3 separate regions of the Homo sapiens genome follow, and all the other regions are reported to be linked to region 2. Evidence: microRNA targets listed by miRTarBase, many of them from high-throughput screens and not tested one by one. Region 2 holds a microRNA gene; each other region holds the end of a gene's coding sequence.
What was found. The annotated mature microRNA hsa-miR-4447 reads GGUGGGGGCUGUUGUUU and lies in region 2 at 1,685-1,701, opposite strand. An mRNA with a match to its seed (bases 2 to 7 or 8) in the 3' UTR can be bound and repressed. Matches are read on the target gene's strand: a 7mer-m8 pairs with bases 2 to 8, a 7mer-A1 pairs with bases 2 to 7 and ends in A, and an 8mer does both.

Region 1: the mRNA of SPATA6 is a reported target of hsa-miR-4447. Seed matches in the 3' UTR shown: 7mer-m8 at 1,635-1,641.
Region 3: the mRNA of FSTL4 is a reported target of hsa-miR-4447. Seed matches in the 3' UTR shown: 7mer-A1 at 1,191-1,197 and 7mer-m8 at 2,571-2,577.

What each region holds. Positions count from the first base shown.
Region 1 is chr1:48,296,203-48,299,374 of GRCh38, reverse strand. SPATA6 (spermatogenesis associated 6) reads left to right here. Exons shown (of 13, transcript NM_019073.4): 13 at 482-3,172. The coding sequence ends at 662. Among named protein-coding and RNA genes, the nearest start is that of SLC5A9, 75 kb to the right of the region's middle.
Region 2 is chr3:116,848,605-116,851,776 of GRCh38, forward strand. It overlaps MIR4447 (microRNA 4447), which reads right to left and starts at 1,763; the gene lies at 1,673-1,763. RefSeq lists enhancers at 185-819, 820-1,455.
Region 3 is chr5:133,196,403-133,199,574 of GRCh38, reverse strand. It overlaps FSTL4 (follistatin like 4), which reads left to right. Exons shown (of 16, transcript NM_015082.2): 16 at 1-3,120. The coding sequence ends at 480. Among named protein-coding and RNA genes, the nearest start is that of CTB-49A3.2, 9.9 kb to the left of the region's middle. RefSeq lists an enhancer at 1-74.

The DNA of each region.
Region 1 (3,172 bases), not on the chromosome of region 2:
CCTCAGCTAATTTTGTATTTTTTAGTAGATATGGGGTTTCTCCATGTTGGTCTGGCTAGTCTCGAACTCCCGACCTCAGGTGATTTGCTCGTCTCAGCCTCCCAAAGTGCTGGGATTATAGGCGTGAGCCACTGTGCCTTGGGCTGTGCATTCTTATACTGGCCATACCAGGCCAGTATAAGAACTGCTTTTATTATGTTCTGCTTTTATTATGCTGTACCTGTGTCTGTTCTCTGAATTCCTTTTTCACTCTAACACAAAATTTTCATTTTACTGTTTTATAACAGTTTTACACAGATACTTCTGCCTCCCCTTTTAAAATGTCCCTCTTTGAAAGCACAGGCCTTACTCTGTTTTATTTTTCACAGCCCCAGCAGAGAATTAAATAGCCATAGAGTACTCAATAAATATTTGATTTACATAGTACTATCTCTAATTTTGTTTCATTATTGTTTTGAACCTTTTATATCCCTTTTTATAGCTCATGTCAGCAGCCACGTGGCACTTTCCATTTGGATGACGGTGAATACTGGTCCAACAGGGCAGCCTCTTATAAGGGAAAATCCCACCGACCCATCTTTGAGAACAGCATGGACAAGATGTACAGGAACTTATACAAAAAGGCCTGTAGTTCTGCTTCACATACACAGGAAAGCTTCTGAGACCATCCATGATAAACCTCATTAGTGTCCGTGTCAATTTCTCAATGAAAATGTTTGATGTGATCAATATCTGTATTCCTTTTTTTAAAAAAAATGGGATTATAACTAAGTACAATAGTTATACTTGAATAAGTTCATTACTTCAAATGGTAAATTATCATAGGCAAGCCTTTTAAAATAATTATTACAGAAGAGTCTGCTGTGTTACAAACATTAGAGCTCTGTCACACAATCACAACTTCCAATATGTGACAAGGATATTCTGTTACATGTACACCTCATATTCCATCTGCAAATCCAAGAATAGTTCCTTTCTAGAAATGTTTTTTTTGCCTTACTCACCTTGCAATTTTCTTCTCATCTACTTAACTGGTTATCTTGCCTGTGTAAGATTTAATTAATATTGACTACCTTTTCTTGGTGATGAACAAAATGATATCCTATACAGAAATGAATTTCCTAAGGGTTTAAACCCTGTTTTCACTAACATTTTCTACTTTTTCCTTTTTCAGAACAGGCTATTCTATTTCTTAGCTCATAGGCTTTCTTTTTAAAGACTATATGATCATTCACTCCTTTTTCTCTGGAAGAACTGTGTAAGTTGCTTAAAATGCATAGCAGTTAGCTAGAAATATCAGTGCCATGGATGATCAAAAATTTGAATAACTAATTTTTAAAGATAAAATTCTTTGCATGATTTTTTTTCTAGGGCCATACCTTTTGGTGCAACCAGAATCAGAAAATGGCCTCTGTTAGTAAGCTTATAGAAACCTAAAAATAATAATGGAATTATATTGTAATTTGACTGCTTGGAATTTGTGTAAGTACCATATGGCCCAAGGCACTATTATAGTATCCTCACTTTAAAAAAAAAAACACTTGGAACCACAATGTGAGTAAAATATTATAGCAGAACGCTTTGTGGTAGACACTGAAAATGTTGTTGATTGATGGATAGAATTAACTTCTCCTCCCCCACCCCAGCACACACCTGTGAAGCCAATGATACTATAAAGACATAAAGAAATCAGCTACTTTATATTTAATAGAGAGTGAGGGGAGGGAAAGGAGAGTGTAGGAATAAGTGAACTGGGCTTATAGTCTTGAAGAGTTGCCTAAAAGATAATATTTTCTCATTGACTCTGTTTTTGATTAATTTTACAGTTATGATTGAAAAAGAACAAAATGAACTTCCTTTAAAATGAAATTAAAATGTGAAACTTGCTGACTTATTTTTGTAGTAGAACTTGTTAACATCATGTTAAGGGTGCTTTAGTATCACAGTCTGTGATATATCAGAAAGGGCATTAGAGCTATCTCTATGAGCCAGGAGTCCTAGGCTTTAGTATCCCATGTCTGCCGTTTTCTAGCTGAGTCTATTTAATTCTCAGATCCTTTGTTTCCTCAGCTATCAAATGATAAGAATGTAGTAGACCCCAAACTATGTTCTGTGGACCAAGATCACTGTTTTAGGAGATAATCGTAGGAATGTAGGTATAAGTATGTAATTGGCCATCTAAGTTTAGGAAAATCTGTTTGCTACACACATACACACACACACACACACACACACACACACACACACACCTCTTAGAGAGTCATATGTAGGATTATAGAGGTAAAAAGAGATGATATTAATGCTGGAATAGCGCCTGTAAACTGGGGCTGTCTACAGCAAATTAGGATATATGGTCACTGTGCTCATTGTGAACAGTAGCTTGTTCGAGGCTTTAAGAAAATTCTGGTATAAATCTGTCTTACTCTGCATCTAGTAGACAGCCTGGCATGTAATTGATGTTCCTTAAATATTTATCGAATTAACCCAGAATTTTCTAAACTAAATTTAGCATGTACCACTATTTGTTATTCTTGCCACCACCCCCCATTCCCCTAGCTCCTCACACTACCTGCCAATGTCATCCTAAGGTACATGTGGATACCTAGGTTGTAGAAATGCTGGACTACACAATTGCTGAGTTACTCTCTGGCTGTAGATTATATGATGAGGTATTTTACAATCAGCTTTTGAAGGTCAACATTGAATAATGCTCTTTTAAAAAAATTATATCCTCAGTGTTTTTCCATGGAAAAATAAGTGAAAATTCTTTTAAGAGTTGCTGTTTGGTGAAAAGAACAAACATGACTTTCAAAGAAAATGTTTTACTATCACCAAAATCTCCCAAGTGAATAAGTACCACAGAAATTACTTATTGCACCTGTATCTGCCATTGGCTGTGAAAAAGGCTGCAAAAAGTAGGGCTGAAAGGGAAACTTTAGAAACTAATACTCTGAAAGATGTTTTCCTATGGATTAAATTTAGTGTCTTTCTGAAAGTTGGGGGCAAATTCCCAGATACTAATAGCATCTTTGCTAAGTGTCTGATTATCTTCTATCCCCTAGGAGGAAAGAGTGGTCCATGTTGCTGTAACTACTACTATGAGTGCTTATGCTGTATTGTTTTTAAAGAGTAAAACCTTTAAGTACTAATAGTTGTCTTTTCTCATTCACAG
Region 2 (3,172 bases):
AATGAGCTTTGTAATGTTAAACAAGTCAACCTCACTGTGTCTCTTTCTATGGATTCCAATGTTTGTGTGTTCTGCTTCACAGAGTAATTGTAAGGATCAAATGAATCAGTTAACCAATCAAGCCGAATAAATTGAGCACTAACGATGGCTTTAGCAGTGTGCTGGTTATTCTCAAAACTTAGATGTAAGTTGTTGCCAGACCCATCTTCAGAAGCTATACCTTTGCTTGTGCACACACTAATGAACTTGTACTAGTCATGATGTTCTTGAGCTAGTAATAATGCTCTAGCAAAAATAAAACGTACTTTCCACATTCTGAGGACATAATCCAAAGTAGCCTGCAATAAACACAGGCTAAACACTTTTTTAAAGATTTGCTTTTAATATTCAAAATTCCCTCAGAAGCATGATAAACAGAACACACATTTATAACTTTTCCTTCTGAAAATTTACAAAAATTAGAGTAAAGAAGTTAAAAGAAAAAAAAAAATCCTTCAATGCCTAAAGACAAAGAGAACTATAAACCAAAAATAAAATTCTAAGTCTCCTCAATCATCTAAATGGACCCCTCCTCTCGTCAAGGGCATTCCAGAGTTAACGTGAAAAACTAATACAGGCCATGATGGAAGAGGGGGTCAGACATGCCTCATTATATCCTCCTCCCTTTTGGAATTCAGGAAAAGCCAATCAGCATTAACATCAACACAGACTTTAAATGTGATAAGAAACATTTACATTCTTTTCTCTCTGAAGCCTGCTACTTAGAGGCTTCATCTGCATGATAAAACCTTGGTCTCCACAACCCCTTATTCTAGCCCAGCCATTCCTTTCTATTTATAATAGCTCTTTCAGCAAATTACCAATCAGAATATCTTTGAATCCAGCTATGATTTGGAATCCCCATCTCTACCTCACCCCCACTTCCAGCTGTCTCCACTCTTCCAGATTGAACCAATGTAAATCTCACATAGATTGCTTGATGTATTATGTCTCCTTAAAACGTATAAAGGCAAGGTGTACGTCAACCACCTTGGGCACATGTCAGCACCTCCTGAGGCTGTGTCATGGGCGTGTCCTTAACCTTGGCAAAGTAAACTTTCTAAATTGATTGAGACCTGTCTCAGATACTTTTTGGTTCACAGAAAAAACAAGAGACCAAATAACTGCAGTTAAGATGCATCAAGAAAATTTTGGAAGCTGGAAGCAGACAGACAATTCCTAACTGAGTTTAAAGAGAAAAGAAGAGTAAAATTATTCATTATAGAAACGAAGAAACCAGTTGATTTCCACCACAGAATTCAGGAAAGCTTCTGGACTTATAGACAACAGATACATCTAAAGATTCAATGGTGATAAAGATGTAAAGATTGGTTGAAAGCTGGTATGTGGTTAGAATCCTGCATCAACTCCTGCATAGTATGATAACTGCACTCCTCTTCTGGTCTCCCTCATACACAAATAGACACATGCCAGAAGAGGACAAGCCTCTTATTCAACATTGGAGAGATTGAATAACAGGGATTACTTTAGAACAGTAGGTCTCAACCATGTTCAATTTTGCTTCCCAAGGGATATTTGGCAATATGCCATGAAGACATTTTTGGTTGTCCCAACTTGTGGTGGGGTGTTTCTGGCATCTAGTGGGTAGAAGTCCAAGAAGGATTCTTCTAACATCCTACAATGCAAACAACAGCCCCCACCACAAACAATTATCTGACCCCAAGTATCAGTAGTGCAAATGATGAGAAACCATGCTCTAGAACACCAGAAAAAGCTGAGGATGGGAATGAAATATTAAAATCAGATGAATAAAATGAATATTACACACCGAACTGTGAGATCTGCATCTTGAATTATGAGGTCTTCCCCTTCCCTTTATTCACCTAGTTGTATCTCTGAGAAACCCAATCATTTGCCTTATATATTCCAGGCAATAGATCTGAGGCTTCCTTTTTGAGGGAAATCACTGTTTAAAAGAAAAGACCTGTGGATGCCCATAGCAGGGAGGTCTCTCTCCAGCTGACCACTCTACAGTGAAGCCTGCCATGCTAAGCCATCTCCAGTCAGAATTGTAGAATTGTGATAACTTGTTCCTAAATATAAATGCATAGCAAAGGATTAGCAGATATTAAGGAAGGCTTATAACATGAAAGTTATACCCCTGATATGGTTTGAGTTTGAGTACCTGCCCAATTCTCATGTGAAATTGTAATCTCCAGTATTGGAGGAGGGGGTCTAGTAGGAGGTGATTGGATCATGGGGCCGTTTCTAACGGCTTAGCACTATTTCCCTAGAGGTGTCTTCTGATAGAGTTCTCCCCAGACCTGCTTGTTAAAACGTCTGTAGCACCTCCCCACTATCTTCTTCCTCCTGCTGGCCACATAAGATGTGCTTGCTTCCCCTTTGCCTTCCACCATGATTGTAAGTTTCCTGAGGCCTCCCCAGAAGCAGAAGTCTGTACAGCCTGTAGAGCCATGAGCCAATTAAACCTCTTTTCTTTATAAATTACCCAGTTTCAGGTATGTCTTTATAGAAGTGTGAGAAGAGACTAACACAATACCCAAACAGAGAGACCAAAAAAAAAAAAAAAAAAAGAAAAAAAAGAGGAGAGAGAAACTCAAAATAACCATAGATAATATAAATGAAATTTCTTAGGAAGATTAACTAAAAAATCATGAGGTTTTTAATAACTGCCGTAAATATTCACCAGGGCCTACTTTTGTAGCTACTACTTTTTTCTTGTTATTTCCTACATAAATATTGTTTATATTAATTTATATCTCATTCTACAGAGAATTTCATCCAAGTATTTTGTACAAGTAATTAGAGAAATATGTATGCAATATAGACAGGCACAAAAGGAAAATCAGTACAAAAAGAAAATAAAAATACCATGTTAACCAAGTCAACAGAGAAGTTATAATTTAACTTCAAATTGACTTCAGACATTCTATAATTTCTTCAATAATTTGTTAGAAATGAATGAAAAAGGGAGGTTGTGAATAACTGTAACATGGAATTTCTCCTCTATCCTTTCTCATTACATTAGCTTTTTAAAAAAACCAGAAATCTGAATTTTTATAGCTTGTTTTGGTGTAGGACTGAGTAACAAACTTTCCCAGGTTATTTAAAATGTGATTGACTTTACACTATTCCACTTTCATGCAACTTT
Region 3 (3,172 bases), not on the chromosome of region 2:
CCCAATGGTGATGTAACAGGCACCCCACACACATCCCCCGACGGGCGCTTCATAGTCAGTGCTGCAGCTGACAGCCCCTGGCTGCACGTGCAGGAGATCACAGTGCGGGGCGAGATCCAGACCCTGTATGACCTGCAAATAAACTCGGGCATCTCAGACTTGGCCTTCCAGCGCTCCTTCACTGAAAGCAATCAATACAACATCTACGCGGCTCTGCACACGGAGCCGGACCTGCTGTTCCTGGAGCTGTCCACGGGGAAGGTGGGCATGCTGAAGAACTTAAAGGAGCCACCCGCAGGGCCAGCTCAGCCCTGGGGGGGTACCCACAGAATCATGAGGGACAGTGGGCTGTTTGGACAGTACCTCCTCACACCAGCCCGAGAGTCACTGTTCCTCATCAATGGGAGACAAAACACGCTGCGGTGTGAGGTGTCAGGTATAAAGGGGGGGACCACAGTGGTGTGGGTGGGTGAGGTATGAAGGGCCCAGAGCAGAGCCCTGGGCCAAGGAACACCCCCTAGTCCTGACACTGCAGCCTCAAGCAGGTACGCTGTACATTTTTACAGACAAAAGCAAAAACCTGTACTCGCTTTGTGGTTCAACACTGGTCTCCTTGCAAGTTTCCTAGTATAAGGTATGCGCTGCTACCAAGATTGGGGTTTTTTCGTTAGGAAGTATGATTTATGCCTTGAGCTACGATGAGAACATATGCTGCTGTGTAAAGGGATCATTTCTGTGCCAAGCTGCACACCGAGTGACCTGGGGACATCATGGAACCAAGGGATCCTGCTCTCCAAGCAGACACCTCTGTCAGTTGCCTTCACATAGTCATTGTCCCTTACTGCCAGACCCAGCCAGACTTTGCCCTGACGGAGTGGCCCGGAAGCAGAGGCCGACCAGGAGCAGGGGCCTCCCTCCCGAACTGAAAGCCCATCCGTCCTCGCGTGGGACCGCATCTTCTCCCTCGCAGCTGCTTCTTGCTTTTCTTTCCATTTGACTTGCTGTAAGCCTGAGGGAGAGCCAACAAGACTTACTGCATCTTGGGGGATGGGGAAATCACTCACTTTATTTTGGAAATTTTTGATTAAAAAAAAATTTTATAATCTCAAATGCTAGTAAGCAGAAAGATGCTCTCCGAGGTCCAACTATATCCTTCCCTGCCTTAGGCCGAGTCTCGGGGGTGGTCACAACCCCACATCCCACAGCCAGAAAGAACAATGGTCATCTGAGAATACTGGCCCTGTCGACTATTGCCACCCTGCTTCTCCAAGAGCAGACCAGGCCACCTCATCCGTAAGGACTCGGTTCTGTGTTGGGACCCCAAAAAACCAGAACAAGTTCTGTGTGCCTCCTTTCAGCACAGAAGGGAGACATCTCATTAGTCAGGTCTGGTACCCCAGATTCAGGGCAGACTGGGCTTGCCTGGCAAGGTATGGGTGGCCTCCAGGCTCAATGCAGAAACCCCAAGGACACGAGTGGGGCCAGGTGAGTTCCTGAAGCTATACCTTTTCAAAACAGATTTTGTTTTCCTACCTGTGGCCCATCCACTCCTCTCTGGTACCCCATCCCCGCATCAGCACTGCAGAGAGAACACATTTCGGCGAGGGTTTTCTTACCCACATTCCCCAATCAATACACACACACTGCAGAACCCAGAACAGAAGGCCACAGGCTGGCACTACTGCATTCTCCTTATGTGTCTCAGGCTGTGGTGACTCTCACATGGGCATCGAAGAAGTACAACCCACATAGCCCTCTGGAGACCGCCTAGATCAGAGACTCAGCAAAAACAGGCTCGCCTTCCCTCTCCCACATATGAGTGGAACTTACATGTGTCCTGGTTTGAATGATCATTTTGCAAGCCACACGGGTTGGGAGAGGTGGTCTCACCACAGACGTCTTTGCTAATTTGGCCACCTTCACCTACTGACATGACCAGGATTTTCCTTTGCCATTAAGGAATGAACTCTTTCAAGGAGAGGAAACCCTAGACTCTGTGTCACTCTCAACACACACAGCTCCTTTCACTCCTGCCTGACTGCCAAGCCACCTGCATCCCCCGCCCCAGATCTCATGAGATCAATCACTTGTATGTCTCACGCAACTTGGTCCACCAAACGCCTGTCCCCTGTAACTCCTAGGGGTGCGCCTAGACAGGTACGTCTGTTTTTTATTTTAAAAGATATGCTATGTAGATATAAGTTGAGGAAGCTCACCTCAAAAGCCTAGAATGCAGTTTCACAGTAGCTGGGATGCATGGATGACCCATCTCACCCCTTTTTTTTTCCTGCCTCAATATCTTGATATGTTATGTTTACTCCCAATCTCCCATTTTTACCACTAAAATTCTCCAACTTTCATAAACTTTTTTTTGGAAAAATTTCCATTGTATCAGCCCCTGACAGAAAAAGGATCTCTGAGCCTAAAGGAGGAAAAGTCCCACCAACTACCAGACCAGAACACGAGCCCCTCTGGGCAGCAGGATTCCTAAGTCAAAGACCAGTTTGACCCAAACTGGCCTTTTAAAATAATCAGGAGTGACAGAGTCAACTTCTGCAGCACCTGCTTCTCCCCCACTGTCCCTTCCATCTTGGAATGTGTCTAAAAAAGCATAGCTGCCCTTTGCTGTCCTCAGAGTGCATTTCCTGGAGACGGCAGGCTTAGGTCTCACTGACAGCATGCCAGACACAACTGAATCGAAGCAGGCCTGAAGCCTAGGTCAGGGTTTCAGGAGTCCAGCCCCAGGAGGCAAAGTCACCAATGCAGGGAGGTAAATGCCTTTTGGCAGGAAAACCAATAGAGTTGGTTGGGTGGGGAGTCAGGGGTGGGAGGAGAAGGAGGAAGAGGAGGAAGGCCAGACTGGCCTGCCCTTTCTCCCATACTTCACCCCAGCAGAGGTTCATGGGACACAGTTGGAAAGCCACTGGGAGGAAATGCCTCACTACAGGGGGGCCTCCTGTAGCAAGCCCAGCCGGTAATCCTCCTAATGAACCCACAAGGTCAATTCACAACTGATATCTTAGCTATTAAAGAAGTACTGACTTTACCAAAAGAATCATCAAGAAAGCTATTTATATAAACCCCCTCAGTCATTTTGAAATAAAATTAATTTTACAAAAATTCGATAGTTTTTTTTTTCCCAAAATGACAAAAAATCTGCACCTGTGGTGAC